Homo sapiens: one gene and its partners. The protein of the gene in region 1 purifies or fractionates together with the protein of each later gene. This does not show direct contact. Each region holds a gene or a part of one and is shown in the gene's direction. Other genes may lie near its edges.

Region 1 (9,068 bases):
CTTACTACTGCTTTCTTCTAACAATTTTATAGTATAATCCATTTTTAGTTAATTTTGTATGTGCTGTGAGGTGAGGGTCCCACTTCATTCTTCTGCATGTGGCTATCCTGTTATTCCAGCACACTTTGTTGAAAAAATCTATTCTTTCCCCATTAAATGGCCTTGGCAGCTTTGTTGAAAATCAATTGACCATAGACACGTGTGTTTATTTCTGGATTCTCAATTATATTTTACTGATCTACATGTTAGCCTTATGCCAGTACCACACTATTTTGGTAACTGTAGTTTTGTAGTAAGTTTTGAAATTGAAAAGGCTGAGTTCTCTTGCGGGATTGTGTTGGCTATTCTGGGTTCCTTGAGTTTCCATAAGAATATTAGGATCAGCTTGTAAATTTCTACAAAGAAGCCAGCTGGGGTTCTGACAGGAATTGCGTTGAATCTGTAGATCAATTTGAAGAGTATTTCCACCTTATAAATATTGTCTTTCAATCCACAAACATATGATATCTTTCCGTTTATTTAGATCTTTTTTAATTTCTTTCAACAAAGTTTTGTGTTTTTAAGAGTGTTACTTTTGCACTTCTTTTTTTTGCACTTCTTTTTTAAAATTTACTTCTAAATATTTCATTCTCTTTGATGTCATTGTAAATGCATTCTTTTTAACTTTCATTTTTGTATTCTTTCTTAAAATTTATTTGTTGAAGAAACCACGTTTTTTTCTGCAGTTTCTCCCCCCTCAACACACAGACACACACACACACACCTGCACTCTAAACCACACACACACACACCTGCACTCTAAACCTAAGTCTGGATGTTGTTGCTTACATCCCTACAATGTTAACATATTTTTCCTTGTATTTTTCTAAAAATTCATAGTTATATCTAGGAGCTTGATAGGGTTCAAATTGCATTTTTTGACAAAAAATACTTTCTATGTGCTGCTGTGTTTTTCCATCAAGAGGCATATGATATATGGTTAACACTCCTTTTGTAATGTTAGAAGACATTAACTATTATTACCTAGATCCACTAATTCATTAAAGGTTGTAATTTTATCATTCCTTCATAATTTATTAGCTGGGAATCTTTTTAAAACACTTTCCTCGCCAACTCCTTTGTTACACCAAGGAATAATTTGTATTTAAAAAAAGCAGGTTAAATGTTTGAGTCACTCTCTTTATTTACCAGTTTTAAAATAATGAGCTAGCTTTCTAGGTTTGGCCAAATTGAGCAATTATGTTTTTAAGTGTTTTTATGAATTTGTATATTTAAACATATTTGATATATTTCAATTCATTGTAGTTATTATCTTTACTGATGCTCAAATTGCCCCGTGTTTGACTGATGACAGCCTCTTCAAGTCCTTTTGACTCAACTCTAATAATGTTTTTAGCTTCCTTGCTATCTGGTGTGACAAGATATTTTATGTTCATCTTGGATATTTCTTGCCACATATCTGAAGTCAGCCATTTATTTAAGTAATCCTGGGTCCTTTTATTGGGAAATAGCATTTAGAACCATCCTATGGGCACTATAGGTGAATTTGGACACTGAGATTTTCATTGTTTCTAAGTATTTTTAGTGGACAGAGCTTAAAAATTTTTTTTAAATGACTAAACTGAGTTCATACTGATGCCTTCCATAATTGGATAATCTTAAGAGATCTTTCCTTCAGGCTATGAAAAATCTGGCAAAGTATTCCTATTCCATAATATTATCCCTGTGTCAAATGATTTTTTAAAAAAATATTGTATCACCAGAAACTGTGACTTGCTCTTGGACAATGATAGGTAAATAGTTCACAAATTCTTACTAATTTCCTATTTACATATCTATGACTGCCATAATTTCTGAATAAAACATTAGATGATCTCATGAGTATTGTTGTAAAAATTAGGACAATAGGACAAAGTATTTGAAATCAGGACTATCTGGAAAATATAACGTGTATAGTTGCCACATAAATATTCTAGGACAAAGATGACAAATACGTTGGCCTATGAATATGTTCAATATTAATGATTAGGACAGTAGTTGCTAAATTGGGTCCTGAGCTGTTCTAGTCCTGCTAATAGATGTTCCATAAACAAAAGAAATTCATGTTCACAAAAGTTTTGGAAATGTAAGATTGAAAAACAACACAACAGATTTCTTTACTTCAGGACTCCAAGAGACGTTAATGTTTTAATATGCAACGTGACTCTTCTGGAAGGGAAATAGTATGCAGTGTTTATACACTTATTTGAATGCTTCACGGAACCCTCTTGTACATAACAACTTGTGACTGCTGGACCAGGCTGTTCTTTTAAATTAATCACATTACAATTATGTCTTCCTGAAGCTCAGGTCAATGTATTTCAAACTGATCAGGATGAGACTTTGGGAGATCTTGTTCATTGAATGTTGAAGAGCGTATGTGTGTGTGTGTGTGTGTGTGTGTGTGTGACTCTGAAGGTAACCCTATCTCTGGTATCCAAACGCAATCTTGGTTTGGCCTTCTATCTACCGACTACACTATGATTCTATTGTGTGTGTGTGTGTGTGTGTGTAACTGTGTTATAAAAATAGAATTTTTATTGTGTGTGAAGGACACTATTTGACAGATCTCAATGATTGACCATTGGGAATAGTCCCATCTGAGAGCCACAAAACCATCCACAGCTGTTACTTTGAATCTTCGTGCTGTCCATTTTTGCTGATCCCTCACAACTAGTGTTAGTCATGTTGCTTCCATTCTAGAAAGATAATAGTAGCTGCTTTTTAAGTGGCCTCTAGAGACTCTTTTAATATAGGATTTACATGTAGGAATCTTTGGTCTAACAAAGGATTTTTCTTACCTTTAGGTGTTCCAACATTCACTAAACGTGTGGTGCTTTCAGCAGTTGTGAGATCCTGACTACAGAACGAGGTAGCTTAGAAACTAAAAGATCCTTAAAACTTGCCAGTTGGTTTGGGGGTTTCTCAGAGATTTTTAAACTGTTGGAAAATGGCATCTATGAGAAAATGAAAAAGTAGTCTAGATTGTTACACCTAAAGACGAGTTACTCTAATATGAAGGACTGTTATTTAAAGCATTTCACAAAACTATTTATTGAGGTGCAAAAAGAAAACATTGGAACATCAATATATTTATTTTTCTCATTCTTTTAAAATTTCTGTGGAGTATTTTAATGTTTACTCATTAAAATGTATGTTTAAAGTAATGTGTAATGTATACATGTACAGTAGTACATGTATATAATCTATAAATCCTTATACATATGTTGGGGCCCATGCTCAATAGTTTTTTAATAGACTAAAATGTATGCGGAAAATTTGATTTAGAGGATTGTGTGAATCTCGTCTTCATCAGAAGAGTGTTTTAGAGTGTATGTGTGGGGAACGGGGTTGGTTTAAATAGGAGCACATGAGATTCAGTTACATCAATTTATTTTATTTAAATATAACAACTATTAGTGATACAGCATTCATTCATATTCAGCAAATATTTTCTGAGCATGTCCTATGCAGCAAGCATTGCCCTAGGCTCTGTGCATACGGTGGTGAACACAAACGTTGTCCTTGACCTCATAGTCCTTCCCCACTATAGTTTAGTAGGGAAGACAGCTGTCAACCAAATAATCATACACTTAAATGTACCACCAAAAATGGGTAAGTGTTATGAAGGAAAAATACAGCAAGTTACAGGAGGCTACAAGAGTATAAACTGGGGCACCATCTCTATTCTGAGATTATCGAGAAAGGTTATCCTGAGAAGTGACATTTAAGCTGGGGCCTGCGGAGATTGATTGCACGATTGCCTTGTCAAGAGACAGAGGAAGAGTGGCCTAGATGGAAGTAGCGGGTATGTGTGAGGGCCTGGACGGGGTCATGAGATGAGTGAGGGCCTGTGCCACAAGGTCACAGGGTTTCGGGCAATGGGGAAGCTTCAGAGATGGAGCTGCCTGACAGAGAGGTGGAGTGCAGGCTAAATGACCTCAGGAGCTTTGTCCTTCTTCAATTCCAGGGGGAAAATCACAAACTAGTTGGAAGTACCAGAGGGCTACAGAAAACAACAAAAAGAGACTAGCTGGTCGGCTAGGCACAATTAAAACATCAAATTCTGCCCCAGCAGCAATTCCGGGAAATTCAAGTAATGCCCCCTGTGTGGCCCTCTAGAACTGTATCTGGTAAGAGTAAAGGGCAGTGTGTCCTCTATGCCTGCGCTACAGATGTGGACATTTTTTTTAATTGCCTGAAAATTTCATAAGCTGTAGCCAGTTAGAGGGCCTAGCAATGTGTTGTGATCATGTGTTTTCCTGAGTTATTTGAAACAAGAGGGTGTATGTACTACCCTCTTGGCAAAATTAAAGGATTTTGAGCTAGGATAAATGAGGTAGATCAGAGGATAATTGCAGGAAGTGGGGCAGTGGCTAGCCCTGCTTGAGGGCTTAGGCCCAGGCTGCAGAGGAGCTAAGTGGAAGAGCAATATTTGACGGTCTATTGCCGCTGTGCCTACTAATCGGCTAGGGGAGGAGAAGGAGGACAAGGGAGACCAGGGTTGGACGATGAGCATGAAAGAAGAGTGGGCGAGCCAGGGAGCGCTTGCCACATGGAGGGCGGGAGGCGGCTACACCGGGTCCCCACCGCCGAGAAAGGGGCACGAGGAGGCGGCGCGGGCCCCGCCCCCTCCCCTGGCGGGCGCGGGCGCGGGCTCGAGACGCTGCGCGGCGGCAGCGGCGGGCGCGAGCGGCAGCTGTCAGGCCACCGAGGTCCAAGCCGCACTTGCTGCCCCATTGAGGACGAGGAGGCAGCAGGAGCAGTGACGGTGACTCTAAGGAGCCGGATTCCCGGCACGCAGAGCTGACCTGCCTGGCACCCGCGGCCCTCTCCTGTTTCCTTCCCATTGTGTTGGGTAAGGTGCCTGTGCGTGGGCAGGAACAGGGGCTAGGGGCTGGAGGACCCGGAAGGCCGGGAGGTGGGGGGCCTGTGAGAAGAGGGAGAAAGGAAAGTCTAGTTGATCCCCAGGACCACTCGTAGCTTGAGAAAAGGGACTGAGCCGCTCCCGAGGTCGGAGTCGGGGGCAGGTGACAGTGCAGGGGGGCGTTGCTGAGTAATCCCGAGCTGCTGCCAGAGCCGAGCAGAGAGGCGCAGGGCTCCGTGGGGAGCGGGTGTGGCTCAGTGCGCATGCGCCACAGCCGACTAGCTCTAAGAGCTGGGGGTGAGGTGAGAGGACCTGGGTCGGAGGTAGTTGGGACTATGTGTGACATCTCACTTTCTAGGTCCGTAATGCTAACAGTGCCCCTGTCGTAGAGATGCCAGCATTCTTGTCTCCCAAGGAAGCTTTTTTTCCTTGTGTTCAGCTCGCTTGATGTCATCCAAACCTTATCTACCTATCTGTCCCTGGGCAGTCTACTGAGGAAGAAGTGTCCTGGGGACGATGCCAGATTGCTATCTAGTGTGCCTTTGGGCTTATAGCCCTAGAGCTGTCGTTGTGAGCAGTGAAAGGTTAGATGTGGGACTCCACATTGGACCCTTTGAGTTGCATATAGGATATAAATGTGGGCATGAATGTAGGAATAGCGTTTCAGTGGCATGACAGCTGTGGCATTTGGAGTCGGCATGGATGTAGCTGATAACTTGTTAGCTCTGCAAAATGAATCCAGTGCGTCAGAGGGTTTCCGCGCTACGAAGCACCCACCACCAGCACCAACGCCAAGTATTGGGTTGTATTGGAAACACACTCAAACATTCAATCATTTCTCATCCGTGTTGAATTTTACATAAATATAGCCGCGCCCAATTCTTCAGTGCAATATTTCCAATTATTGTGCCAGCATTCAACAGTGAGTTGAGTAGCCCTTACCAGTGTGTCGCCACAAGATGGGCTTTCCCCACAGGTCCAACCATGGCTCCTCCCCTGTACAGACTTCCAACAGTGCCACTCTCATCCAGTGCCTAGCCCTCCCCAGTTGCTCTTCCCCTATCGATCCCTGCAGTACACATCCCTTTCAAGACTTGCCTCCGAGCAATCTGCACTACTGATTTTGAGCATCATTCCACTCCATGGCAACTGAACTGATGCGAATTTGCTTTTCTGCCTCTCTTCTCTCCATCATCATACTAAAATGTACTATTTTCAAAGGTTCAACTTCTTTTTCTTCATTGTACTGCCTCCTCCCCCACCTCCACTCCCACCTCTAAGCATTCCCAACTAAATACAATAATTTGAATAAGGCTTTGTGGGTACTGCAGATTCAGAAGGTTTCAAGTGTGTTAAAGAACAAAGAGCTGGGGAGTATTGGTTATGGAAATTCCTAATTCACCTTACTCTCCAAGACTGAGACCCTGATGGGAAAAAAAAAAGTTAGTAAACTATCCTTAGAGCATGCTCATTAATGAGTTTGTGGGGGTAGGAAAGGGGAATTGCGTCTCTCGAATATTTTACTCAGTTAGAGTCAGATCTTTCTCTGAATGGGATCAAAATCAGAATAAGCGTTTTGGTCCAAATGCTCGCCCGACAGAGGACCCATAAGGGATGCATACGTCATTTGACTTTCCTATTTACGTATTTAGTGTTATCAAAGAATTCATTTGCCTGCTTAATGTTACCTTGTTTAAAGGTTTGGATTAAATCCGGCATATTCTGGGGGAGGAAAAAATGATTTCATTTGCTTTTACACTGTGCTAGTTCTTTTTAATTTAAGTATGTACTAAAGGACATGACATTCATTTTCAAACAATGATAAATGATTGTGGAGAGGCCAGCACCCACCGACAACATCAACTGGATATCATTATTCTGCTCTTGTTTTGGGTAGGAATGGGGAAATGTATATACTTATTTTTAAAATGTGAGAGTAGGGGGAGGAAAACTGGAGCATTTCCCTTGACTTTCAACAGGTGGAATTCCCATTACTCCCCATCCAGAAAATGATCGAGTCAAGTTCATAACTTCTGCTCTTTAGTTACCTTATAAATAATAGTATTTTGGCATCTTACAGAACTATGGATCTATTGTACCTTGGCATCAATTCAGAGGCATTAATTCTGGGCACCTACCTAATCATTTAATTGGTAAACAAATATTTATTATCTCCATGGAGGATCCTGGTGCTGCACACTGAAGGGGCTTCAAAGATGTATACAGTGAGCTTACTATCTAGGAATTTAAAATTGATCATGTAAGAAAGACAGGAAAAGTTTGTTAACAAAATAAGTCAGTATAATGACATTATTTCAACTGTAAACAATGAGATCCTGAGCTTGCATGTTAATTTGTAAACTCCCTGAGGGCAAGACCTTGCCTTAAACATTTATTAATTCCCAACAGTATCTACATCCAATGGATGTTTGAGTGATGAAGCTTTGCAAAGTAGATTGAGTGGGGAGACACCAGAAGCAGGGAGAGAAGAACTTTCACAATAGATTAGATGTGAGAAATTGTGGGCCAAAATGAGGATGGTAGCACAGGACTAGAAAATGATACTTCAAGGGAAAATCAGCAGGATTGAATGAAGGCAAGGAGACAAATCTAAACTGTATTCATTTTTACTTCTAGAAAATAAATGGGAGTTGGAGACAGCAGAGGAGAGTGGAGGGTTTCCTTAGTAAGGACACAACACACAATAGGCACTGTAGTGTTTTCTCAAATATCAGTAGCAAGATTGGACCAGAAGACCCTGAAGGTCCCTTCAATGCTGAGATTCTGTGCCATATGCAGATGTTCAAGCTTGTTGAGGAACAAGGCATTCTCAAATATGGAAGAAAGAGAAAAGGAAGAATTCTTATACTTTCACTAGCAGGCCCTTTCTGAGAAGGGTTAATACTGAGCCACAAGGCCCCCACCAGTGCATGAAAGGAGGTGGAGGAGCCAGAGGAATAAAAATCTCAAACCAAATTTTTCAAAAAATGCTTACAAATCTTTGCAAACTTCATAAGCTTTTCATTCTCCCCCAAAATCCTGTTAAGTAGGGCAGGTATTATCTGCTCTATTTTTATGTAAGAAGATACTGAAACAGAAAGATTAAATGACCTGCCCAAGTTCATAAAATAAATGAATGGTGTAACAGTGATGAAGACCCTGGTGTCCTGATTACTGCCAGCTAGCTCAGTGCTCTTGACACTGAACCACATTGCTTTTCCTCTTTTTCCCTTGGCATAGAGCCTATAGGCCCAGAAGTTATGTGTGCACATAACCAAATAGGGAATGCACAAGCAACTGCAGCATTATCTCAGACAGTTATTAATACATCATCATTATTCCTGGAGCTGAGCATTTGGTTTCCATATTCACTCAGTCCTTGACCTGTCTATTGAGTTTATCTGCAACTGGGAGAATAGGGTCAGTGAGTCTTTTAATGATGTGAACGCCTGTTTGCTAGGAACTCAAGGAAGCTTGTGTGGCCTGGACGCTTAATACTAGCCATCAGAATCATGCCCAAGTTTGTACTTCTGTTGCTTTTCAAAATGAGAGTTCAAGAGTTTTGCTCTGTAAAATTATCCTACAGACCAGTATAAAAAAATAAAAAAGTGTGCTAACACTTGTTTCATCTCCATTTAAAGAAATGTTTGTTACTTGAGCTAATTCCAAAGACAGCAATTTGGGAGCAGGAAAAAGAGGACAAAAATTAGGAATTGTAGGAAACTTGAGAATTCTGTAGAGTGTATATAAACCAAGAAGGAGGATAAAGCCTATCCATTTAGGAGATATTATTTAAATTCATAATTACTGATTTAGATATCTAATGAATCCTTATTATAAGTTTTATCTATATTTAGAAAATAACATGTGATTATTAAGCAGCAGATTTTTTTTTAAAGCTTCGTTCTTCCTCAGTAAGAAATAACACTACACAGATCTAGGCACTGTTTTTCTTCTTAAACCAGTACTCTTGATGCTGCTTAAATAAGATTCTTGCCATAATTAATTATAATATTAGATGAATGTATATTTAAATTTAATAACACCAGCTAAATATTAAAACTGGTGTTTAAGACAGATGAACTGCCAGGTACAGCGGCTCACGCCTGTGAACCCAGCACTTTGGGAACATGAGGTGGGCAGATCGTTTGAACCCAGGAGT
Region 2 (8,878 bases), on another chromosome or scaffold:
GAGGTGGGCAGATCGCTTGAGGCCCAGAGTTTGAGACCAGCCTGGGCAACATGGTGAAACCCCATCTCTACTAAAAATACAAAAAATGATCTGGGTATGATGGTGCATGCCTATAATCCCAGCTACTCAGGAGGCTGAGGCAGGAGAGAATCACTTGAACCCGGGAAGTGGCGGTTGCAGTGAGCCAAAATTGCACCACTGTACTCCAACCTAGGCAACAGAGCGAGACTCTGTCTCAAAAAAAAAAAAATTATTTATGATGAGAGACATTAAAACATTACAAAATTAGGCCAGGCACAGTGGCTCAATGCCTATAATCCCAGCATTTGGGGAGGCCGAGGTGGGAAGATCACTTGAGGCCAGGAGTTCAAGACCAGCCTGAGCAACGTAGCAAGACCCCATCTCTATAAAATATTTAAAAATTAGCTGGGCATGGTGACATGTGCCTGTAATTCTAGCTACTTGGGAGATTGAGGTAAGAGGATTGGGTAAGCACAGGAGTTCAAGGCTGCAGTGAGTTATGATTGCACCACTGCACTCTAGCCTGGGTAACAGAGCAACATCCTGTCTCTAAAAAAAAAGAAAAGGCTAGGTACAGTGGCTCACACCTGTAGTACCAACACTTTGGGAGGCTGAGGCAGGTAGATTACCTGAGCCCAGGAGTTTGAGACCAGCCTAGGCAACATGGAGAAACCCATCTCTACAAAAAATACCCCCCCCAAAAATTAGCCGGGCATGGTGGCACATGCCTATGGTCCCAGCTACTTGGGAGGCTGAGGTGGGAGGATCACCTGAGCCCAGGGAGGTCAAAATTGCAGTGAGCCGTGACTGCGCCACTGCACTCCAGTGACACAGTGTGAGACCCTGTCTAAAATAAATTAATTTAATTTAAAAATAAAAATAAATTTAAAAAGAAAAGAGGCTGGGTGTGGTGGCTCACATCCATAATCCCAGCACTTTGGGAGGCTGAGATAGGTGTATCACTGGAGCCCAGGACCTCAAGACCAGCCTGGGCAGCATAGTGAGACCTTGTCTCTACTAAAAATTAAAAAAATTAGTCAGGCATGGGGGCATGGGCCTGTAGTCCTAGCTACTTGGGAGGCTGTAGCAAGAGGATCACTTGAACCCAGGAGATCGAGGCTGCAGTGAGCTATTGTTCATGCCACTGCACTCCAGTCTGGGCAACAGAGGGAGACCTTGTCTCAAAAGAAAAAAAAAAAAAGAATTATAAAATTAGCTAGCCTTGGCCGGGCAAAGCGGACATGCCTGTAATCCCAGCACTTTGGGAGGCCGAGGCGGGTGGATCACCTGAGGTCGGGAGTTCAAGACCAGCCTGACCAACATGGAGAAACCCCATCTCTACTAAAAATACAAAAAATTAGCCGGGCGTGGTGGCACATGCCTGTAATCCCAGCTACTCAGGAGGCTGAGGTAGGAGAATCACTTGAACCCAGGAGGTGGAGGTTGCAGTTAGCCGAGATGGCGCCATTGCACTCCAGCCTGGGCAACGAGTGAAACTCCATCTCAAAAAAGAAAAAAATAATTAGCTAGCCTTTTACTTTGAACATCTCCAATTTTGGAGATTTAGGACAAATACAGTTTTATTTAAGGGAAGTTTTTGAGAGTGTTTGAGAATACTGAGTGGGATGAAACTAAAGGGTTTGAGTAGAAGGTTAGAGGTTGGTGATCAAAAGAACTACTTTTTTTTTTTTTTTCCTGTCAGCAGGGAAAAAATAACTACCCTTTAATTACTTTACCAGTTTTACTCCTGTGTGATCTGATGATCCACTTCTTACAGGTCATCTGGAGCCCTCCAAAGGGACTTTGCTGAAACAACACCAACACCTTTGCTGAGTCATTGTGGGCTTTGGTGAAACTATAGGAATATATACTGTCATGATACAGGGTGAAGGCTTCTCATCTAATAAACATATATTGAGGGTCCACTAGATGCCAGGTACTGTGCACAGCCCTGTGGATGATATGTTGATGGAGACAAGGTTGCCCTGCCATCAAGGAGCCCATGATATAGTGGAGAGTGAACATGGGAAGCTGAGGTGCAAAGGGAACATAAGAGGTGTGCATACCAATAAAAATTAGAGACAGTAGGCCGGGCGCGGTGGCTCACGACTGTAATCCCAGCACTTTGGGAGGCCGAGGCGGGCGGATCACGAGGTCAGGAGATTGAGACCATCCTGGCTAACATGATGAAACCCCGTCTTTACTAAAAATACACAAAAAATTAGCCGGGAGTGGTGGTGGGCGCCTGTAGTCCCAGCTACTTGGGAGGCTGAGGCAGGCGAATGGTGTGAACCCGGGAGGCAGAGCTTGCAGTGAGCCGAGATGGCACCACTGCACTCCAGCCTGGGCGACAAGACTCCGTCTCAAAAAAAAAAAAAAATTAGAGACAGTAGGATGCAGTCAAATAGTCAGAGACTTGGATACCAGCTGAGTCCATGCCAGTTTGTAGTATGATCTTGGGCAAAGTCACCTAGCTTCTGTGGCCTTGCCTTTTCCTTCTGAAAAATGGTAAAGATGCTATATTTTTTCCCCTGTCACCTCAGGTGGTATAAGGAGAATATGACTTCAAGGACAAAAAACACTTTGATTTCTTCAAAGGACTTTGCAATTGCTATAAAAATTCAAGATGTCAGTATTGACAGTTTTATAACACAGAGCTAAGATATCTAGATACCATTATCAGGATATGGTAACAATACCCACTAATACTTATTTTATGCTATCTGAATGTTTAAATTTTTTAATGGAGTACTGTTATACAAAATAACTTTTTTTTTTTTGAGTCAGAGTCTTGTGCTGTCCAGCCTGGAGTGCAGTGGCATGACCTTGACTCACTGCAGCCTCCGCCTCCCAGGTTCAAGAGATTCTCGTGCCTCAGCCTCTCCTGAGTAGCTGGGATTATAGGTGCCCACCACCACACCTAGCTAATTTTTGTAATTTTTTTTTTTTTTTTTTAGTAGAGACGGGGTTTCACCATGTTGGCCAGGCTGGTCTCGAACTCCTGACCTAAGTAATCTGCCCACCTCGGCCTCCCAAAGTATTGGGATTACAGGTGTGAGCCACCGTGCCAGCCACAAGATAACTTTTTATCAGATTTTTTTTGTCTCTATTCATATTAACTACACCAAGATCAAGTTACAAAAAGTTGTCAGCCGGGTGCCATGGCTCACGCCTGTAATCCCAACACTTTGAGAGGCCAAGGCAGGTGGATCATTTGAGGTCAGGAGTTCGAGACCAGCCTGGCCAACATGGTGAAAGCCCGCCTCTACTAAAAATACAAAAATTAGCCGGGCCGTAGTGGCGTGCGCCTGTAATCTCAGCTACTTGGTAGACTGAGGCAGGAGTATCGCTTGAGCCCGGGAGGCAGAGGTTGCGGTAAGCCAAGATCGCGCCACTGCACTCCAGTCTGGGCGAGAGAGTGAGACCCTGTCTCAAAAAAAAAAAAAAAAAAAAAATTGTCATATCTGTTGCCATAGCAATGAAGTAAGCTACTCATCAGTCTTCCTACACCTCTGTACATTTATTAAGCCTTCTATTTGAATAAATATAAACTTCATTTCAGGATAAAATATATAGGGAATGGCAAAACTATGAAATTATTTAACTTGCTTAAAAGATTAAAACTGAACTCAACTTTAATTCTAGGCCCTGGGCCGGCCCTTCAAAGCATTGGAAAGTCGTGAAATTGATGTGTTGCTCTCTCTTTTCCAGCTGAACTGTCCCAAGCAATAAACAGTGGTACATTGTTATCAAAACCGTCCCCACCCTTACCACCTAAGAGAGGCATTCCATCAACCTCAGTACCCACCTTGGAGTCTGCTGCTGCCATCACCACAAAAACACCAAGTGATGAAAGAGAGAAGAGCACGTGTTCTATGGGCTCGGAACTACTACCAATGATCTCACCTCGCTCTCCGTCCCCCCCACTGCCTACTCATATACCTCCAGAGCCTCCACGCACCCCTCCATTCCCTGCTAAGACTTTTCAAGTTGTGCCAGAAATTGAGTTTCCACCATCCTTAGATCTACACCAGGAGATTCCCCAGCAGGAAGATCAGAAAAAGGAAGTCCCCAAGAGGATACTGGACCAGAACTTTGGGGAGCCCCATATACCCTCTAGGCTGCCTCCACTCCCACTGCATATTCGAATCCAGCAGGCCCTCACCAGCCCACTTCCCATGACTCCTATTCTGGAGGGTTCTCACAGAGCTCATTCGTTGCTTTTTGAAAACAGTGACAGCTTTTCTGAGGACAGCAGTACGCTGGGTCGGACCAGGTCTCTTCCCATCACTATTGAAATGCTAAAAGTGTAAGTGCCTTTAAAGCTTGCCTCTTATTTCTCCTTTACTCTAGATAGCCCTGCTTGGAAAAAATTACTTATAAAAAGAAAATGTGGGCCGGGCCTAGTGGCCCACACCTGTAAGCCCAGCACTTTGGGAAGCTGAGGCAAATGGACCGATCACCTGAGGTCAGGAGTTCAAGACCAGCCTGGCCAATACAGTAAAACCCTGTCTCGATGAAAATAACAAAAATTGGCCAGGCGTGGTGGCACATACCTGTAATCCCAGCTACTCGGGAGGCTGAGGCAGGAGAATCGCTTTAACAGGGAGGTGGAGGTTGCAGTGAGCCAAGACTGTGCCACTGTACTCCAGCCTGGGCGACAAAGCGAGTCTCTGTCTCACAGAAAAAAAGAAAATGTGAATAATTTTTTTTTTTCCGAGATGGAGTCCTGCTCTGTCACCCGGGCTGGAGTGCAGTGGCACGATCTCCGCTCACTGTAACCTCTGCCGCCCAGGTTCAAGCGATTCTCCTGCCTCAGCCTCCCGAGTAGCTGAGACTACAGGCATGTGCCACCACATTCGGCTGATTTTTGTATTTTTAGTGGAGATGGGGTTTCAACATGTTGGCCAGGCTGGTCTCGAACTCCTGACCTCAGGTGATCCACCTGCATCGGTCTCACAAAGTGCTGGGATTGCAAGTGTGAGCCACCGCGCCCAGCATTGTGAATAAATTTAAAGTACAAAGAATACTCTGCCAAAAGAATAAGTTATAGAATTTGGACTCTTTCTTTTTTTAATCTTACCTTAAAACTTTATTTTTATTTATTTATTTATTTATTTATGTTTGAGACAGGTTCTCACTCTCTCACTCAAGCTGGAGTCAGTGGTGCAGTCTTGGCTCACTGCAACCTCCATCTCCTGGGCTCAAGCAATTCTCCCTCCTCAGCCTCCCGAGTAACTGTGACTACAGGCGCATGCCATCACACCCAGCTAATTTTTATATTTTTTGTTAGAGATGGGATTTTGCCATGTTGCCCAGGCTCACCCTGAACTCCTGGGCTCAAGCAGTCTGCCTGCCTCAACCTCCCAGAATGCTGGGATCATGGGTGTGAGCCACTGCGCCTGGCCAAATTTTGATTTTTTACTCTTGTGATTTTTTTTTTTTCATGGAGATTTTTGTGATGACACAAAATTTACAAAATTATGTACATGAAAAATTACAACCGCTAGTTTTATATACTACAGGGAAGGCATTGTATAATGTTGTGCTTAAGAGCATTCACCTTGGAGTGAGATAGCCCTGGGTTCAAATTGCAGCACTACCACTCTTAGCTTATAGTAGTGTTAAGTTACTGAAGCCTTCTGCTCTTTAGTTATATCATCTCTAAATGGGAATAATATTTACTCTGTAGGCTTGTGAGAATGACATTAGACAAATTCTGGAAAGCACCAGTGCCTAATAAGTGGTAAAGCTGGGATCTGAACCCTTAGATTAATACCTGCTAAAAAGTTTCTTAGTAAGATTGTTAAAGTTAAGGGAGAGAATTAATTATAAGTTACTTCATCCATAGATTTTTTTGTATTTATGGTTATTTCAGTCCTTTGTCTTTTTTTTTTTTTTGAGATAGAATCTCACTCTTGTCACCCAGGCTGGAATGTAGTGGCACAATCTCGGTTCACTTCAACCTCTGCCTCCTGGGTTCAAGAGATTCTCCTGCCTCAGCCTCTCAAGTAGCTGGGATTACAGGCACCTGCCACCATGCCAGGCTAATTTTTGTATTTTTAGTAGACACAGGGTTTCACCATGTTGGCCAGGCTGGTCTCAAACTCCTGACCTCAGGTGAATTTGCCCACCTCCATCTCCCAAAGTGCTGGGATTACAGCCATGAGCCACCACGCCCAGTCTTTATTTCAGTCCTTTGTCTTAAAAGTCAGTTATCCTCTTCATTTCTAAAAGGAAAATATAATTATGTTAATTTGTTAGTCCAGACGATGAAGAAGAAGAGGAGCAAACCTGTCCATCCACATTCAGTGAAGAAATGACACCTACCTCAGTCATTCCTAAATTACCACAGTGTCTACGGGAGGAAGAAGAGAAGGAGAGCGACTCTGATTCAGAAGGTCCCATTCAGTACCGAGATGAAGAAGATGAAGATGAAAGCTATCAGAGTAAGAAAGGGAGGGAAAAGCAAAACAGAGAATTCTTTTCCAGATAAAACTATTTGCTGATCTTAGCAAGTGTCAAAAGAGATATGGAAACAGGTACCTTCTCCCATTAAGTCATCTGGCTAACTGATGTTGGAAGCCACTGTGAAGGACTCCTTGTCCCTATTATCACCCCTCTGTTAAAACAAGCCAAGACAGGGATCCAAGTAGATTGAGTCACTCAGGTTTTAGGTTTTTTGTTTTTTTTTGTTTTAATTTTTTTTTTTTTTTTTGGACAAGGTTTTGATCTGTCACCCAGCTGGAGTACAGTGGTGCAATCGTCGCTCACTGTAGCCTCCAACTCCTGGACTTAAGTGATCCTTACGCCTCAACCTCCCAAATAGCTAGGACAGATGTGTGCCACAACTGGTTAGGTTTCTTTGATTTTTTGTTTTGTTTTTTGTTTTTGTAGAGACAGGGTCTCGTTAGGTTGCCTAGCCTGTTCTTTTTTTTTTTTTTTGAGACGGAGTTTTGCTCTTGTTGCCCAGGCTGGAGTGCAATGGTGCGATCTCGGCTCAGTTTAACCTCCACCTCCCAGGTTCAAGCAATTCTCCTGTCTCAGCCTCCCAAGTAGCTGGGATTACAGGCATGTGCCACCACACCTGGCTAATTTTGTATTTTTAGTAGAGATGGGGCTTCACCATGTTGGTCAGACTGGTCTCAAACTCCCGACCTCAGGTGATCTGCCTGCCTCGGCCTCCCAAAGTGCTGGGATTATAGGTGTCAGCCACCGTGCCTGGCCATAAAAGATATATATATAATTTTTTTTTTTTTTTTAGACAGAGTCTTGCTCTGTCATCCAGACTGGAGTGCAGGGGCACGATCTCAACTCACTGCAACCTCCACCTCCCGGGTTCAAGCAATTCTCCTGCCTCAGCCTCCCAAGTAGCTGGGATTACAGGCGTCTGCCACTAGGCCCAGCTAATTTTTTTTTATTTTTAGTAGAGGCGGCGCTTCACTGTGTTGGCCAGGCTGGTCTCGAACTCGACCTCGTGATCCGCCCACCTCCCACAGTGCTGAGATTATAGGTGTGAGCCACTGTGCCCAGCTGCCCAGGCTGTTATTGAACTCCTGACCTCATGTGATCCCCCTGCCTTGACCTCCCAAAGCTCTAGGATTACAGGCATGAGCCACCGTGCCTAGCCTATTTTTAATTTTTATAGATATATAATAGTAATATATATTTATGGGGTACATGAGATATTTTGATATAAGCATGTGTGTATGGGTAATTAGGCTATCCATCTCAAGCACTTATCATTTGTTTGTATTGGGATTATTCCAAATCTACCTTTCTGGTTATCTTGAAATATACAATGAATTATTGTTAACTATAGTCACCCTATTGTGCCACCGAACACTAGATCTTATTCCTTTTTTTTTGAGACAGTGTCTCACTCTGCAGGCTAGAGTGCAGTGGCACAATCTCAGCTCAATGGAACCTCCACTTCCTGGCTCAAGCAATGCTCCAACCTCAGCCTCCCAAGTAGCTGAGAACACAGGTGTGAGCCACCACGCCCAGCTCATTTTTGTATTTTTTTATAGAGACAGCGTTTCACCATGTTGCCCAGGCTGGTCTCGAACTTGTGAGCTCAAAGTGATCTGCCCACCTCAGCTCCCAAAGTGCTGCGATTACAGGCATGAGCCACCACGCCCGGCCTAGATCTTATTTCTTCTATCTAATTCTGTTTTTATACCCATTAACCAGTCTCTCTCTCCCCCATCCCCTCTACCCTTCCCTGCCTCTGGTAACCACCATTTTATTTATTACCTCCATGAGATCAACTTTTTTAGCTCCCACGTAAGAGTGAGAACATACAACATTTATCTTTCTGTGCCTGGCTTATTTCACTTAACGTAATTGTCCTCCAGTTCCATCCATTTTGTTGCACATAACAGGATTTCTTTCTTTTTCATGGCAGAATAATCTTCAATTGTGTATATACACCACGTTTTCTTTATCCCTTCATTTATTGATGGACATTTAGTCTGATTCCATATCTTGGGGATTATAAATAGTACTGCAATAAGCATGACTGATTGATTTGCTGATTTCCTTTCTTTTGGATATGTACCCAACAGTGGGATTGCTGGATCGTATGGTAGTTCTATTTTTTTTTTAATAGACGGAGGCTCACTCTGTCACCAGGCAGGAGTGCAGAGGCACGATCTCAGCTCACTGTAACCTCCGCCTCCCAGGTTCAAGCGATTCTCCTGCCTCAGCCTCCCAAGTAGCTGGGATTACAGGTGTGTATCACCATGCCCAGCTCATTTTAGTTTTTGTTTTTGTTTTTGTTTTTGTTTTTTTAGTGGAGACAGGGTTTCACCATATTGGCTGGGATGGTCTTGATCTCTTGACCTCATGATCCACC
Region 3 (8,900 bases), about 18 Mb from region 1:
TAAAACATTACAGTAAAAACAAACTGAAATAATAAGACATAAATAATAGGAGAAACTACTTGTACAAAAATAGTAAACTATTTTAAAATTTGACTATGAATAGCCATGTAATAAATTCTGGGGTGAAGTTTTGTCAGCAAATTTAGTGGAAATAGCTCACCCTTGGAGATTAAAATATGTCTTTAAATAATATTCTTATATCAAAAATGAAAAATTAAATACAATTAAATGCAAAACAACACAATATTGCCAATTTCAATGTGTTTGAACTTTTCATTTGTGCGATCATACTGAAGATTTACTATATTCAAACTTTGGGGATAAAAAATAGAAGAAAACAAGTTAATCTATTGAATTATAAATTTAAATGAGTAGTATCTATACTTAATCTTTTCTATGTGTGTGCTTGAATATGTATAGGCAATTTTAATTAACTGGAAGATCGTTTGATAAAATATTGGGAAACTTTGCAATCAGGCCACTGAATATTCAGTTTAATTATGTTGGTATGCACTTCTATTTGCTTCTAATGCCAAGGATCCATTGGTAAAATGAATGCCCATTTTGTGGTCTGTTATGCAGAAAATGTTTAATCCAGTGTTTGATTTACTCTGTTAAATCTTCCTTATTGAATGTGTTTATTCATCCATGCAAAATTGGGTATGCTGCTTTCTGTTACTATGACATTACAATTAAACAGCTAAAAGAAGAATAGCAAGACTTTCTATAAAGGTTGATGAAATTCCCACAAAATTATTCAGCCTCTTTGTTTTGTTTCGTTTTGTTTTGTTTTGCAGGGACTATGAAAAATGTAAATGTGTTCTGAATATTTCTGTATTGAAGAAGCTGACAAATACAATAGTTAGTACAAATAATCATTTTGTTACTAAAACTAACACTTAAAAAATATTTCTAATATATGGAAATAATTGCTGTCATGACATTGATTATCTTTTAAAGATGGAATTGAACATGAACTCAAAGACCTCAATTTTATAAACAAAAATGGTATGATAGAATAGTATTTATACACATTTGAAATGGAAAACTTTAAGTTAACTTCATCTGGATATATTGTGAAACTCCTCAAGGGGGTTGTATACTCACAACAGCACTAGTTCATGTAATTTGAGGATATTCTCCAGTAGACTGGACTTTCTTTACTTTTAGCTCTGTTTTATTGTCCAGAGTATTGGTACTGGTAAATTTTTACCACCACTACAACTACAGGCTTGGAGACACATTTTTTAATTCAAAATTAGCTTTAATACTAGTTCTGAATTGAAAAAAATTCTTTATAAGTCTGGAACTTATAATAAGATGTAATAATCTACTTCCTGAATTATTATTGCTTATTTTTCATAGTGTTAAGAGATACACATTCATACAAACACAACTATTTTCTAAGAATCTCTTTTCAATTGAAATGTCTGAAATGAGACAAAGAATTCAGAAACTGGATGTCAAGGATGCTCAGTAAGCATCCTTGAAATTCAATCCAAGGAAGCCAGAAAAACGATCCAAGACTTGACAGATGAAGCAGTCATATTAATAAATAACCAAACTGAACTTCTGAAATTGGAAAATTCACTATAGGAATTTCAAAATACAGTTGAATGCCTTAACAACAGACTAGACAAAGCAGAGGAAAGAATTTTGGTGCTTGAAGACTGGTTATTCTAATCAACCTACACAGACAAAGAAAAAGAAAAAGGAGTTTCAAAAAATGAATGAAGCCTCGGAGAGATATGGGATTATGTAAAATGATCAAACCTACAACTCATTGGCATTCCTGAGAGAAAAGAAGTGACAGTAAGCAAGTTGAAAAACATATTTCAGGATATAATACATGAAAAATTCCCCAACCTTGCAAGAGAGGTCGACATGCAAATTCAAGAAATTCAGAGAATCTCTGAGACATATTATGCAAGATGACTATCTCCAATGTACATAGTCTTTGGCCCAGTGGGGTGGCTCACGCCTGTAATCCCAGCACTTTGGGAGGTCAAGGCGGGCGGATCACGAGGTCAGGAGATGGAGACCATCTTGGCTAACATGGTGAAACCCCGTCTCTACTAAAAATACAAAAAATTAGCCGTGTGTGGTGGCGGGCGCCTGTAGTCCCCGCAACTCGGGAGGCTGAGGCAGGAGAATGGCGTGAACCCGGGAGGCGGAGCTTGCAGTGAGCGGAGATGGCGCCACTGCACTCCAGCCTGGGCGACAGAGAGAGACTCCGTCTCAAAAAAAAAAAAAAAAAAAAAAAAAGATGTCCTTAGAATAACAGAATAGATGCAATTCAGCTGTTTTGCTTTACGCTTTTTTTACTGCAATTATTAACTCCTATATTCATCTTTACTTTGCATAAAGTCTACAAAAATACATTTGAAATAAAAGGTATTTGGAGCATTTTCTCCATGCACAAGATTGAAATTTTCCTAATGTAGTAATCTTTTCCATGCCCAGAAAAGGGCATGAATAAGTCCCATAATAACTTTAGAGAAAGAACAGCAAAATATAAGTTGGTAATATTATCCTTCTGAGGATTGTGCTTTCTATCCTTAGGGGAAAAAAAGAAGGTTTCAAACTAAGGGCAGCACAGATTGGAAAATCTATGCTACAGAGTAATTACTTGTTTATTTTGTTTTACCCTACTAAATGTAAACTTCATGAAGACAGGGGTTGTTGTCTGTTTTGTTCATTGCTCTAATCTCAGCATCCAAAATAGTGTCTTGCACATAGTAGGTGCTGAATGAATATTTGAGGAATAAACAAATTAATGAATTGCATCTTCATGGTGTGATTGTCAGAAAATTTCTGAATCCCTAGAAGGTCAGTGATACTCATATTGAAAAGTATATGTATGTAGTTTATATATCTCGTATACATGAACAAATGTATATAAATATATATCCAAAGTATGGTAGAAATACTTTTATTTATCAGGTTTTTAACCATCCATCTGTGGCTTCTCATTATTAGAGAAGATTTTGGAAAGTTTTCTGTGTTTACTCTGAGAAATCCATTTGTTTCCATTTTCTACTGTCTTATCAAGAGTCTCACAAATAATATCTGTTTCACTTCTGATAATACTAAAAACTTGCTTTACATACCAAGGCAAATGACAAAGTGGTTTACTGAACAGTACATTATACTTCTCAGGGGAATCTGTTTTACAGAAAATACTAATCAAAGACCATATCTTAAGAGAGTTGTGTAATACAACTGGATGATCTATAAAAGAAAGTAATGAAACATGTACAATGTTGCTAATGATTATGGTAAAATGCAAGAGAAATGCAGTAAAAAGCGTATCAAAATACATTTTAAAGCATTTTCATGTAAATATTTACAATTAATGGACACTGAACATCTTCTAAATATAAGACACATGATAGTGGTGGGCAGATATAAAGGCAAAGATGGTAAGCACTATGAGGACAGGGACTCGTCTCATCCATCTATTAGGGGAGTCAAAATCAAGTTTGGTTTAGCAAACATTTATTAAATTCCTACTATGCACCGGGCTTAGGTTAGGTGCAGGAGTGAAAAAGATAAATGAGACTTGGTGTCTGTCATGCTGTACAGGGGTTTATAATTATGGTATTGCATGTCTGGGTGTGTATTTTTGTGTGGATATATGGGGATATGTGTACTCTATAGGAATCGTCATAAATGCAGTATGGCGGGTTAAGACAAAGTCTAGCACCATGTAGGGAAACAGCCCACACACGGAGACGAAAGGAGGAGGAGGTGGAAGCCCAGCGACATCCTGGGAATAACTGTTAGCTAGAGAATGGGAAGATCATTCCATGCTGAAAGAACAGCATGAGCGTGGTCAGAGACTGGAAAGAAAACAATGTCTGGGGAACCACAAGCATCTTAGCGGATAGGTGGTGTCAGGGAAGGCCCACTACTGCACATTATCTTTGATTTATTTTGAAACTCTTGTAAAATAACTACACAAGAAATTTCTGTCGTCAAAAAAGTATCCTCCTTCATTCCCAGCATCCTTCCCCTTTTGCTTTGGTGTTGTCAGACAGCGGAGTATTAAATAATCGGGGGCAGGGTGGGGGGCGGTTGGAGGGAAGCGGTGGGAGGCGACAGACCTTGAAGATACTTATGAGAGCTATGTTAGCTGTTAGACATAGACGACCTAAAGCCCCTCATCAGATACAATCACTTTAATATAAAGACCATTTTACCTTAATTATTTCTACGGTAGCTTATGGAAACTAATAGATTGGAAACTAAATGTAAACTAAGGAGAATCTTACATGAACTTATCTAGTTGGTGCGGAAAATCGAATTCAGACTCAACAGACGCTTATCCAGCGCAACCATGCTTTCATATATTTTTTCCCTCCTGTAAAGCAAGGCTAATTTATTGCCCGAGTGGCTGTCTGGACTAACTGGAACAAATACGGACGCGGTGGGAGTTCCATTCTGGCGAAACTAGGGTGAGAGGTTTTTTGTGGGTTTTCATCGAGGAGACATGGAAACGAAAAAGATATGGAATATATTCTGAAAGTATTGGTGTGAAAAACCATGCCTCGAGGGCCAACACGAAAGTACAGAAACGATGGCGGGAAACAGTTTTTTAGGCTGGAATGAAAGTCTCCTTTGTTCACAGAGCAAACCGCCTTCAATTTCACTCCGCTCTCCGTGTCTCCTAACAATTTTGCTTCAGTATTGTCAAGGGGTATCCAAGTCTCCCACATTCATCCTAGCTAACGGAATAAAAATCTACATTTCTTTCCTACTTCAACCCTCCAGGCTAAATGAGCTACAGCATTCAGCCTGGAAAATGAGTCGAGCTTTTAACTTACGTGTAAACATTTTAAATATAATACTGTAGTCGCCTGCCTGGACCTTCCACCCAAGAACTACAACACCCAGAATGCACTGTTTTCTTTTCCGCCTTCCACGGAGGGAATGCCTAACTTGATCTCATTTCCACAAGTAATAGTCACATGACACGTTTCCCGTCAAGATGGCGGATACTCTCCCTTCGGAGTTTGATGTGATCGTAATAGGGACGGGTATGTGTAGCCTGGTGCTTCCTGGACAAAGTTTAGGAAGACTGTCTTGTTTCTGTTTTTTCTGTCAGTGGCGAGTTTTGGGACAAACATCGTGGGTCGAGAGTGGGAGGGAGAACTGAAAGGAAGTGAGGTAGTCCGGAGTCAGCGCGGGAGTTGGCAGTTACAGGGAGGGGCTGGGACCCGCAGTGCTTATCGCCATTTGAGTAGGGGTTGATCTGGTCGATGCTGATTGCTGAGGTTGGTTGCTGCGGTGATTCCTGTTAATTTCCTTAGAGGGAAGTGGATGTGCAGTGTCATGAAATGGAGGGTCGGGATTTTATCAACGGAGACGACTTTGGCAAGACATTATGATTCCTTCCTTATTGATTTCAAGGTGATATTCCCCATCATTTTGTCTCGCCATTTCATAGGACTTTTTCATAGATTTGTATGATCTTAGCATACATCGCAGCTCAGACACAGCTTAATCCTCAGTTTTACAAGAAAGATGCTCAATTATTGCCCATGTGCGTATGAATTTACTAGGGAAAGTAAACGGATTCTATTTTGTTGAGAAACCTAGGGAATTTTATTTTGTTGAGGTAGCCATTATTCCTGCTTTATGGTGCTTAAAGCATCTTGCTTTCTACCATCAATAACTAAATGTGCTGAGAATAAGGTCCTGAGTTCCAGTTCAGGTGTGTGACCTTATCTAACTCTTGTTTTCCCGTCGTTTGTTCTTCATGTTTTGGGTGGAACCAGAAACTCCTCTGCAGTTTCTAGTTGACATATTCAGTGTACAACACGTAGCAGAACACATATGGCAGCAATTTCAATTTTTTTTAATAGTGTAAGGGATGATCATTTTAGATGGAATGAAATAGGTTGTTTGATGGGGTTTTTTACTGTTTGTAGAATGTGGTAGGCCAGAGAAGCTCTGGTGGATGGGACCCTGTCCATTGTGTTAATGAATTCAGTTCGTTGTCTTCTCATACAGCCATGATTAGGAGCAGCCATGTTTTCAGGTTGGGAGTAAAAATAATAGCTACCTGTTTTCGAATGCTTAAAATTTCCTAATCACTGTGCTAAGCACTTTACAAGCCGAACATAATCCTCACAACCTTGTTAGAGTAGTAGGTACTCTCTGCATTTTGTAGAAGAGGAAAAGGGGACTTGGAAAAGTTGTAATTTGCTCAGGATCACACAGCTGGTAAATTTCCAAAGGCCCATTCCATCCCAGGAAAACAGTCAGTGGTTCTGATCCTCAGAGTTGACCCATATTCGTAGAAACAATTGAGAAAACTTGGTTTTAGGTCTTGCTTAGTGCTAGTATGAATTGCTTGAATTGGGAGGGCCAGGCACTAAATCTCTCTGAGCCTCAGTTTCCTTGTTTTTGAATATAAGGAAGGTAAAATAGATGGTCTTTATGTTGTCTAACAAAAAATGCCTGGGTAACAGTTCTCAGAACAGCATGGACAGGTTTATTCTTAGCCTGAAAATAACTGCATGGCTGCAAATAACCTGGTTGTAGCTGCTATGAACAGATGTTGGATGAGAGCTGGAAAGAGCCAATGGACTATTCATTTTTTCTTTTAAGTCTATACTAAAACTGAGAACAGCATCCATTTTGGAATAGTTGTTATACCATACTTGAGTTTTATAATCTTGCTTTTTTTGTGTAGGAACTTGAGGTGTTTTTAACAATTTTTTTAATCAACAATTTTTTTTTTCAGGTCTGGGTTCAAATTTTAATTGATGAATGTTAATTCTTATGAATGATGCTAATGTTTTTCATAAATATTTTGCCTTCTGTACAGTTCAGAATTGGAAGACATCCATCCTGATGGAGTCTGTTATGGTAGAGGTAGGAAGTTACAGTGAGTGAGCCAGAGAATTGCATCAGGTGACATCGCTTATATTTGGAAAAATACTCATTTTATACTTATCCCAGTGAGTGCAATGTTATTTTTCAGTGTTTGGGAAGAACTTATTTGAAGTTAATCTTAAAACTTAAATTTTTCATATTGTTTATTGGTGACACATTCTAGGTTTTATCAAGCACATTGCTTAAATTTATGATATGTAATTTTGCTTTTAGGTACATCAAAAGTGTAAAAATTGAATAAAAGAGTCATTCCCCAAATAAATGATTCCAACAATTCCAATCATGATTTAATTTGATTTATTTTTTAGTGTGCTTGGGATATTTCTCTTGTGAAATAGTTTGCTGAAAGTAGCCTTTAAAATGTTTGCTTTATTAAATGTATTACATTGAGCAAATCATAGAAAAAGCAGTGTTTCATAGATTCAGTTGTATTAATAAAAGTAGAAGCAATAATGCATGCATCAGAAACATGAAGAAATAGGCTATTAGATATACTTTTTAGCAGATTTAGTCCTAGTTAAAATGTCATAAAGGAACAATTGCTTCATCAAGTATAATCATGGAAGATAATATTTTATAATCCCTTTCACCTTGATTAACTTGCATTATCATTTTCTGTAATGCAAGATGGAAATTGTTCCTTAAGATCATATTTTCGAGAGATTATGGAAAAAAATAAACTTTGTATTTTCTTAGTTAAGCCCATTTCCTTCTGATTAGAAAATACAGTAAATATCTCTTGAACATCCAAAGACAGAAGAGTAAGCTAAAGTGGAATTGCGGAAAAAATAGAAGAAAATGGAATAAAGAAGGAGGGCCAACTGGAGTCTCAAGGGAGAGGATAAAAATAGATATATGTGGTAAGGGTCTAGAAGGTGCTCTTCAGCTTGGGTACAGAATTGTCATTTTCAGGGTATTTTGCCATTTAAAAAGTCATTTAAATGACAGTTTTGTGGATTATAGACAAGTACCATTGGTTGAACGTTAAAAGTCGTCCCAGTAACATTACATCTCACTGGAGGTGACTTATCTGGAAGCCTGTGTAATCTGCAGCACAGCAGAGCCAAGAACTCAACAGAAGAGCAGTCAAGATGGAAGTTATAAGATCTATATGATAATATTGACATGCTTCATACATAGGGGAATCCCTGAGATCATCACTTAGAACATATTCATCCTCATTTTAAAAATAATTCTAGCAAGCTCAGCATATTAGAACCACCCCCTTAGAAGATACAAGGAATGTTATCAACTTCTGCAAAGACTATGTTTGGTGGGGTTGCTATTAGACATACAAATGACAGTTTGTATAGGAAAGGGAAGAGAAAAACACCTAAAATGCAAACTTACATCAAACATCACAAAGGCCTGATAACATTTAGTGTAGTGACAAATACTCATTTTTCAGGTCATTCAACCCACATTTACTGAGAACCTAGTCCCTTCCCTTGTGAAGTTTACTGTATTGCCTATTCTCAGGAACGTTCTGGCCTTCCTAACAGTCATATCCCCAAAGCTGTTCTTAAGACAATGTAGGCTTTTCATTGCATCCTTCTTTCTTTTTGAAGACCATGTAGACATTCAGCCTGCATTTTTTCTTTTTAAAAGCACACTGCTCACATCTTTTGGAGTTCTTCCCCTAAGATGGGCTGCAGAGTAGGTTAGCTTAATTTTTCTACTGCATAGGATAAACACATATATTCTTTTGATTTAAGAGTTTTATTGTTAGCCAAGCATGGTGGCACGGGCCTGTAATCCCCATTACTCTATAGGCTAAGGCACAGGCATCCCTTGATCCTGGAAGGCGGAGGTTGCAGTGAGCTTAGATGGCACCACTGCACTCTAGTCAGAGAAACAGAGTGAGACTGTCTCAAAAAAAAAAAAAAGTTTCATTGGCCAGGTGCAGTGGCTCAGGCCTGTAATCCCAGCACTTGGGGAAGCCGAGGCAGGTGGATTGCTTGAGCTCAGGAGTTTGAAACCTCAGCCTCCCAAGTAGC
Region 4 (5,438 bases), on another chromosome or scaffold:
CAGTACTCCCAGCTCTGTGACCTGCCTGCTGCCTCCCTCAACGACCAGTTGCCCCAACATACATTTCGCGTCATTTGGACAGCAGGCGATGTCCAGAAAGAATGCGTGCTTTTAAAAGGTGATGGAACCTGCAGCCTCCACCCCTTGCAGCAGCCCCCATCACTCTTTTCCTCTCAAGGGTGCACCCTCCAACCACCTACTCTTTCCCCAGGCCGCCAGGAGGGCTGGTGCCGGGACTCCACGACAGACGAGCAGCTATTCAGGTGGTGATAGGGAAGCACAAAACAAGGAGAGGGGCTCTGGACTCTGGGCATCAGGCAGCCAGGGCAGGAGGCTGGGGCCTCAAGGAGCTGTTTCAGTCTAGATACTGGGAATGTTGACCAGTGCTTCAGGGCTGTGGGCCTCAACTCCTCCCCACCCTGCCCACCCTCAGGTGTGAGCTGTCAGTGGAGAAGTCCACAGTGCTGCAGTCTGAGCTGGAATCCTGTAAGGAGCTGCAGGAGCTGGAGCCTGAGAATAAATGTGAGGCCCCATTCCGTGAGAGTCTGCTCCCAGAGCCCGCTGAGGAAACCCCTTTCCAGTGTGGCCCTGAGAGGACAGCAGGAAGGCCTCAGGAGGATGGGAGCAGAGGAGGTTCCAAGAGAAACCCTCCTTTTCCCTGCCCTCTCCTCAGGGTGCCTGCTTACCATCATCCTGCTGATGCGGGCACTGGACCCCCTGCTGTATGAGAAGGAGACCCTGCAGTACTTCCAGACCCTCAAGGCAAGTTCTGTCTGCAGAACAGACCAGGGGGAGGCCCAGCAGGCAGGAGGCAGGCAGCTGACATGCATACCCTGCCCACCTCATCCACTCCAGGCCGTGGACCCCATGCGGGCAACGTATCTGGATGACCTGCGCAGCAAGTTCTTGCTGGAGAATAGCGTGCTCAAGATGGAGTATGCCGAGGTGCGTGTGCTGCACCTGGCTCACAAGGTATGGGCTGCCATGCATGCCTTCCCCTGGCCCTCATCCCGCTGGCCTCCCCACGTCCCTGACTTTGCCCCCAGTCTCAGGTGCCTTTGTGGACTTCCAATCAAGATAGAGTTCATCCCTGCCTCCCAGCTTGCTCCTCTTCCAGGCCTTTCTGTCACTCAGCCCATTCTTCTTCTTGCCACTCACTTTCAAATCCCGAGTCACCAGGACCTCCTTGTGCTGTTTCTTCCCCAGGCTGGTCACAGCTTCATCTTCCTTCAGAGTGACCGCTAGCCCACTCCTCCCACACATTCCAGCACATCTCACCCTGGAGCAACCTCCAATACCTGAAGGCCAAATACTTTCCAGAGATTCCTGAGAAGTTGTCCAGGCTCCACTTTCCTAGTCCTTCCCAACACATTAGTTTTATCACATCACCACAGCCCACCTCCATTCCTGCCAAACTCATCTCTGCCTCATCAGGACCAGTCCCCATGGGGGACCAGTCTTTGTTTACCCAGCACCCTCCACTGGCCCCTGTACCTCCGAACTCCAGGCCTCCTCCTCCTCACCCACCCCACTGGTTACCCCACTCGCAGCACTGTCTGTCCCACGTCATGTACTGCTGTGGGCTGTAAGGTCAGCTTCCCACATGCTCCCATCCTCTTCTTGGCTGGGGTCCCCAAGGGCCTGTGGGGCACAGAGGGCATGTGCCTAATAAATGCTGGCCGAGGACCCTCTCCCAGGTCTCCTGGGAAGCCCATCACCTCCTTCCTCCCTTCACCCCCCAGGATCTGACAGTGCTCTGCCATCTGGAACAGCTGCTCTTGGTCACCCATCTTGACTTGTCACACAATCGCCTCCGAACCCTGCCACCTGCACTGGCTGCCCTGCGCTGCCTTGAGGTAAAGTACCCATGTCTCCGTCCCTGTCACGGGTGGTTCTTTTCCTCTTCCTCTCCCTCAGAAGTCTGCCCATCCTACAAGGAGATGTGCAGGACCCTCCACCCCGAACAGGTAACTGCGTGCCTTCCACCTCCATCACGCAGCCTGACCCTGTGAGCCCCTCTGTGCTCTGTGGACCCGTCACCCTGAGCTCCTCAGTTGCTGAACCATCCCTGGCTGACAGCGCCTGTCCTGCCTCCCTGCCCTCCCTGCCCCCAGGTGCTGCAGGCCAGTGATAATGCCATAGAGTCCCTGGACGGCGTCACCAACCTACCCCGGCTGCAGGAGCTGCTACTGTGCAACAACCGTATCCTTCCTTCTGGGTGCCTTTCAGACAGTGGGTAAAGTGAGGTGCCACCCTGGGAAGGGACAGACAGCAGGCAGGGTATGTGCCACCCTCTTGCAGGGCAGGAGAGAGGGGGCTCTGTAGTGTGAGTTGAAGGGGGAGAGCCTGGGGCTGTCGGGCTATCACTGACCTGCACTGGTGGAGTTGTGCGGAGTGGACTTCCTCAAGTCAGAGTTCACAAATGGGCAGCCCGCAGCTGTTCTTCAGGTCTATGTAGTTTTTTGAAAATCAGGAACTTTCATACTTTAAAAAACATCTAGAGTTCTAATTCCTCTCTTAAAAATTGGAAGTTAGAGCAACCTTACACTGGTATTTTCACTCAGCAGCCCTTGGTCATTGCTGAATAGTAAATGTCTCTTTGGACCAGGCTAGATTTCCACCTTATCATACCCTGCACCACTCCCCTGATACTACACCAGCTTGCGTGGGGTGTTGCGGCTCATTCTTTCCTGGCTGACCCTGTGGGTAGGCATTTGCAGTCCCTGCCTAGAGCCTGACTCCCTCCAGGGAGCATATGAGATGCCCATCAAACAGACTTCCAGGCAGCAGTCCCCAGCTCTTGAGGGTACACAGGAGCAAATAAATTGGGAGGAACCTGCCAAGCTTTCCTTGACTCTCCTGAACAAGGCCTCCAGCAGCCTGCAGTGCTCCAGCCTCTTGCCTCCTGCCCCAGGCTGGTCCTCCTCAACCTGCAGGGTAACCCGCTGTGCCAAGCGGTGGGCATCTTGGAGCAACTGGCTGAACTGCTGCCTTCAGTTAGCAGCGTCCTCACCTAAGAGGCCCTGCCCCCTACCCTTGCCCTTTAACTTATTGGGACTGAATAAAGAATGGAGAGGCCCTCTCAGGCTACCAAGCTGTTGTCGCTGCTATCACTACACCACCACCTTCATCACTTTTATTTTTTGAAAAGAAAGGGAAGAGACATGGGGTGTTGCCAGCTCCTTCTTTCTGCGCCATCCTATTGTTTCCTCTCAGAGAGAGCCAAGGCTTCAGTGTTTGGGGCAGAATTCAGGGTGAAGGCTGAGCTTTTGTTTACCTTCTGGTTTGGGGTGGGGGCTGGGACTGGGTCTAGATTCCAAGCAGGAATAGGGCTTGGGCTCAGGTTCTGGCTCTGGTAAGCTACAGAGCAGCTGTGAGTTTCTCCAGCTGGAAGCATCATACAATTTTTTCCCATGACCCCTGCACCTTCCACATGTTCCCCCTGCCCTGGCCCCCATTCACCATAGCTGGGGAGGCTCAAGGGCTCCACGTTCCCAGGAATGGGCCAGGGTGTCCTTGCTCCGTCCTGCCTGAACAACACTATCGGTCCCCATGAGTAGCATTCTACGGTTGAAGTACCTTTGAGAATACTTGATACCATTTGATCCTCACAGAGTCTCAGGGATGAGATTTTTAGGCCCAGTGTACTGATGAGGAAACTGCTGTTGAGACTTGCCCAAGGTTCTTGGCCGGAGCGCTTCAGCACTGAAACCAAAGTTGTCTCTACCCTTGGTCTAGGATTCTAGACTCATGTTCTTGCTTCTGTATTGCTAAGGAATGGTTGGGCAGCGGCCTGGCCTCAGCTCCTTGAGGTCCTGAGCTGAGTGTCTGCTCCCATGGTGTCCCCCCACACATACCATGTACACACCTTGTCCTGACCTAGAGAGTCCTGAGTGGTGGTGGGGGGAGGGGACTGGCTCAGGGGTTAGGGCACTGACTCAAACCTGGCTGGGTGGGGAGAGAAAGATTGATTAAAGCTAGGGAGAGAGTGTGACAAAGGCATCCTACTGGTTCTCTGGGATCTGCCTGGGCCCACATGTGCTCACACACGTCCGGACAGCCAGGGCCCTGCCCCTTCCCGTATCTGCAGTGATGCACAAATCCGCAGCCCCTGCACAAAGCCCTCTGGCTGACCTGCCTGGAAGTTTATATCCACTGGTGTGTCTACTGAGGGTGTTGGAGGTGGGGCACCTGCCCCCACCCCCGGGCAGGTTCTGGTGCTTGGAGCTGGACAAGAAAAGGCAGTGTGGGTGTGGAGGGCTCCCTGCCAGTTCCTGGGGCCTCTCTGTCCCCACTCCCCACGGCACCTCCCTGCCTGATGCATCACCAAACAGCCCCTCCTGGATTCTGTTTCCTTGTGTCTTCTTGTCGGCCTGTTTTTACTGTCTTCTGCTAGGCGGCCCATGGGCAGAGCTGGGACACTAGTGGGAAGGAAGGAAAGAAGGAAGAAGGCCCTGGCTGACGGGCCTGAGGACAAGACCCAAGGAGAGCCTCCCTGAAGATGCCTAGCCTCCTCCTCTCTACCTTGGGATCGCCTTGGTGCCATCCTCAGTGTTTCCCCAGTGACGGGGTGGAGTAAGGATGCACACAGCACAGGTGCCTGAGCCGGTTGGTCTGGATTCCCAGGAAGAATTCCAGGTTGGAGAAAAGGGAATCCTCTAGTCCAACTGAGCAGAGACTCCTCTCAGTGAGAGAAAGGTACTCTGTACCCCTGGAAGGGGGACTCAGTTCCCACCCAAGCCTGAGTGGAAAGGCCTAAACATCCCCTAACCCCCGAGGCTACAGCGGGGGTGGGGGACGTGAAATGAGATTGCTCCTACTCTGATCTCCCTAATCCCAAACTTGAGGGCAGCTCACTCATGCCTGGGGCTGTAGAGCAGCTGAGAAAGAAGGGACAGACTTGGGGGTGGAGGGAGTCAGAATATCTGGTAGAGCCAGCAGGTCAGGGGTTAGCTGGTGGAGCCAGTCTGAGGGCCTGGCTGCTGATGTCACCAGTCTGCAACCTGGGATCCCAGGACCTCCCTGGGCAGGATGAGTTCCAGGACCAGGCCCCTGGGCCAATTTCATAGGGCTGAGCCTGGCTTGGGCTGCACAGAACTCGGCAGCAGGAGCCTGTGAGAGCAGAGGTAGGCAGCCTAAGCTTGGGACCAGAAGGTCGGCCAGACAGGGCTGTGGGTGGAAGGGCCTGCCTGCCCCACTGCCCTTGCAGCTTCTTCATCCGGGAGAAGGGGCTCCTCACATGCCCAGTCTGGTAGGAATCAGCCTGGTGCCAGGGGCCATCACAGCGGTGGCTCCCACCAAAGCCCAGCCTAAGCCCCCAGACCTCACCCCTGCTCCCTCCCTAGCATCTTCTCCCCATTTCCCGCCCAGAGGCCTGGCCTCTTCTCTCCGCCCCCTACAGCAGTTTGGCCCCTCCCTCCCACATAAGTCACTTACCA

The links.
Region 2: the proteins of RAB9B (region 1) and PHACTR4 purify together in Homo sapiens (affinity purification with mass spectrometry; 3 studies listed by BioGRID and IntAct, with this or other methods). This does not show direct contact.
Region 3: the proteins of RAB9B (region 1) and CHM purify together in Homo sapiens (affinity purification with mass spectrometry; 3 studies listed by BioGRID and IntAct, with this or other methods). This does not show direct contact.
Region 4: the proteins of RAB9B (region 1) and RABGGTA purify together in Homo sapiens (affinity purification with mass spectrometry; 3 studies listed by BioGRID and IntAct, with this or other methods). This does not show direct contact.

Annotation. Positions count from the first base shown.
Region 1 is NC_000023.11:103,827,889-103,836,956, reverse strand, and holds the start of RAB9B (ras-related protein Rab-9B), read left to right. Parts: upstream 1-4,699; 5' UTR 4,700-4,897; intron 4,898-9,068. UniProt on the Homo sapiens protein: The small GTPases Rab are key regulators of intracellular membrane trafficking, from the formation of transport vesicles to their fusion with membranes.
Region 2 is NC_000001.11:28,469,822-28,478,699, forward strand, and holds part of PHACTR4 (phosphatase and actin regulator 4), read left to right. Parts: intron 1-3,732; coding exon 3,733-4,330; intron 4,331-6,285; coding exon 6,286-6,470; intron 6,471-8,878. UniProt on the Homo sapiens protein: Regulator of protein phosphatase 1 (PP1) required for neural tube and optic fissure closure, and enteric neural crest cell (ENCCs) migration during development.
Region 3 is NC_000023.11:86,043,623-86,052,522, reverse strand, and holds the start of CHM (rab proteins geranylgeranyltransferase component A 1), read left to right. Parts: upstream 1-4,964; 5' UTR 4,965-4,990; coding exon 4,991-5,039; intron 5,040-5,194; exon of another isoform or gene 5,195-5,412; intron 5,413-8,900. UniProt on the Homo sapiens protein: Substrate-binding subunit of the Rab geranylgeranyltransferase (GGTase) complex.
Region 4 is NC_000014.9:24,263,194-24,268,631, reverse strand, and holds the end of RABGGTA (geranylgeranyl transferase type-2 subunit alpha), read left to right. Parts: intron 1-12; coding exon 13-118; intron 119-211; coding exon 212-263; intron 264-433; coding exon 434-522; intron 523-673; coding exon 674-762; intron 763-855; coding exon 856-972; intron 973-1,742; coding exon 1,743-1,856; intron 1,857-2,114; coding exon 2,115-2,202; intron 2,203-2,868; coding exon 2,869-3,017; 3' UTR 3,018-3,094; downstream 3,095-5,438. UniProt on the Homo sapiens protein: Catalyzes the transfer of a geranylgeranyl moiety from geranylgeranyl diphosphate to both cysteines of Rab proteins with the C-terminal sequence -XXCC, -XCXC and -CCXX, such as RAB1A, RAB3A, RAB5A and RAB7A.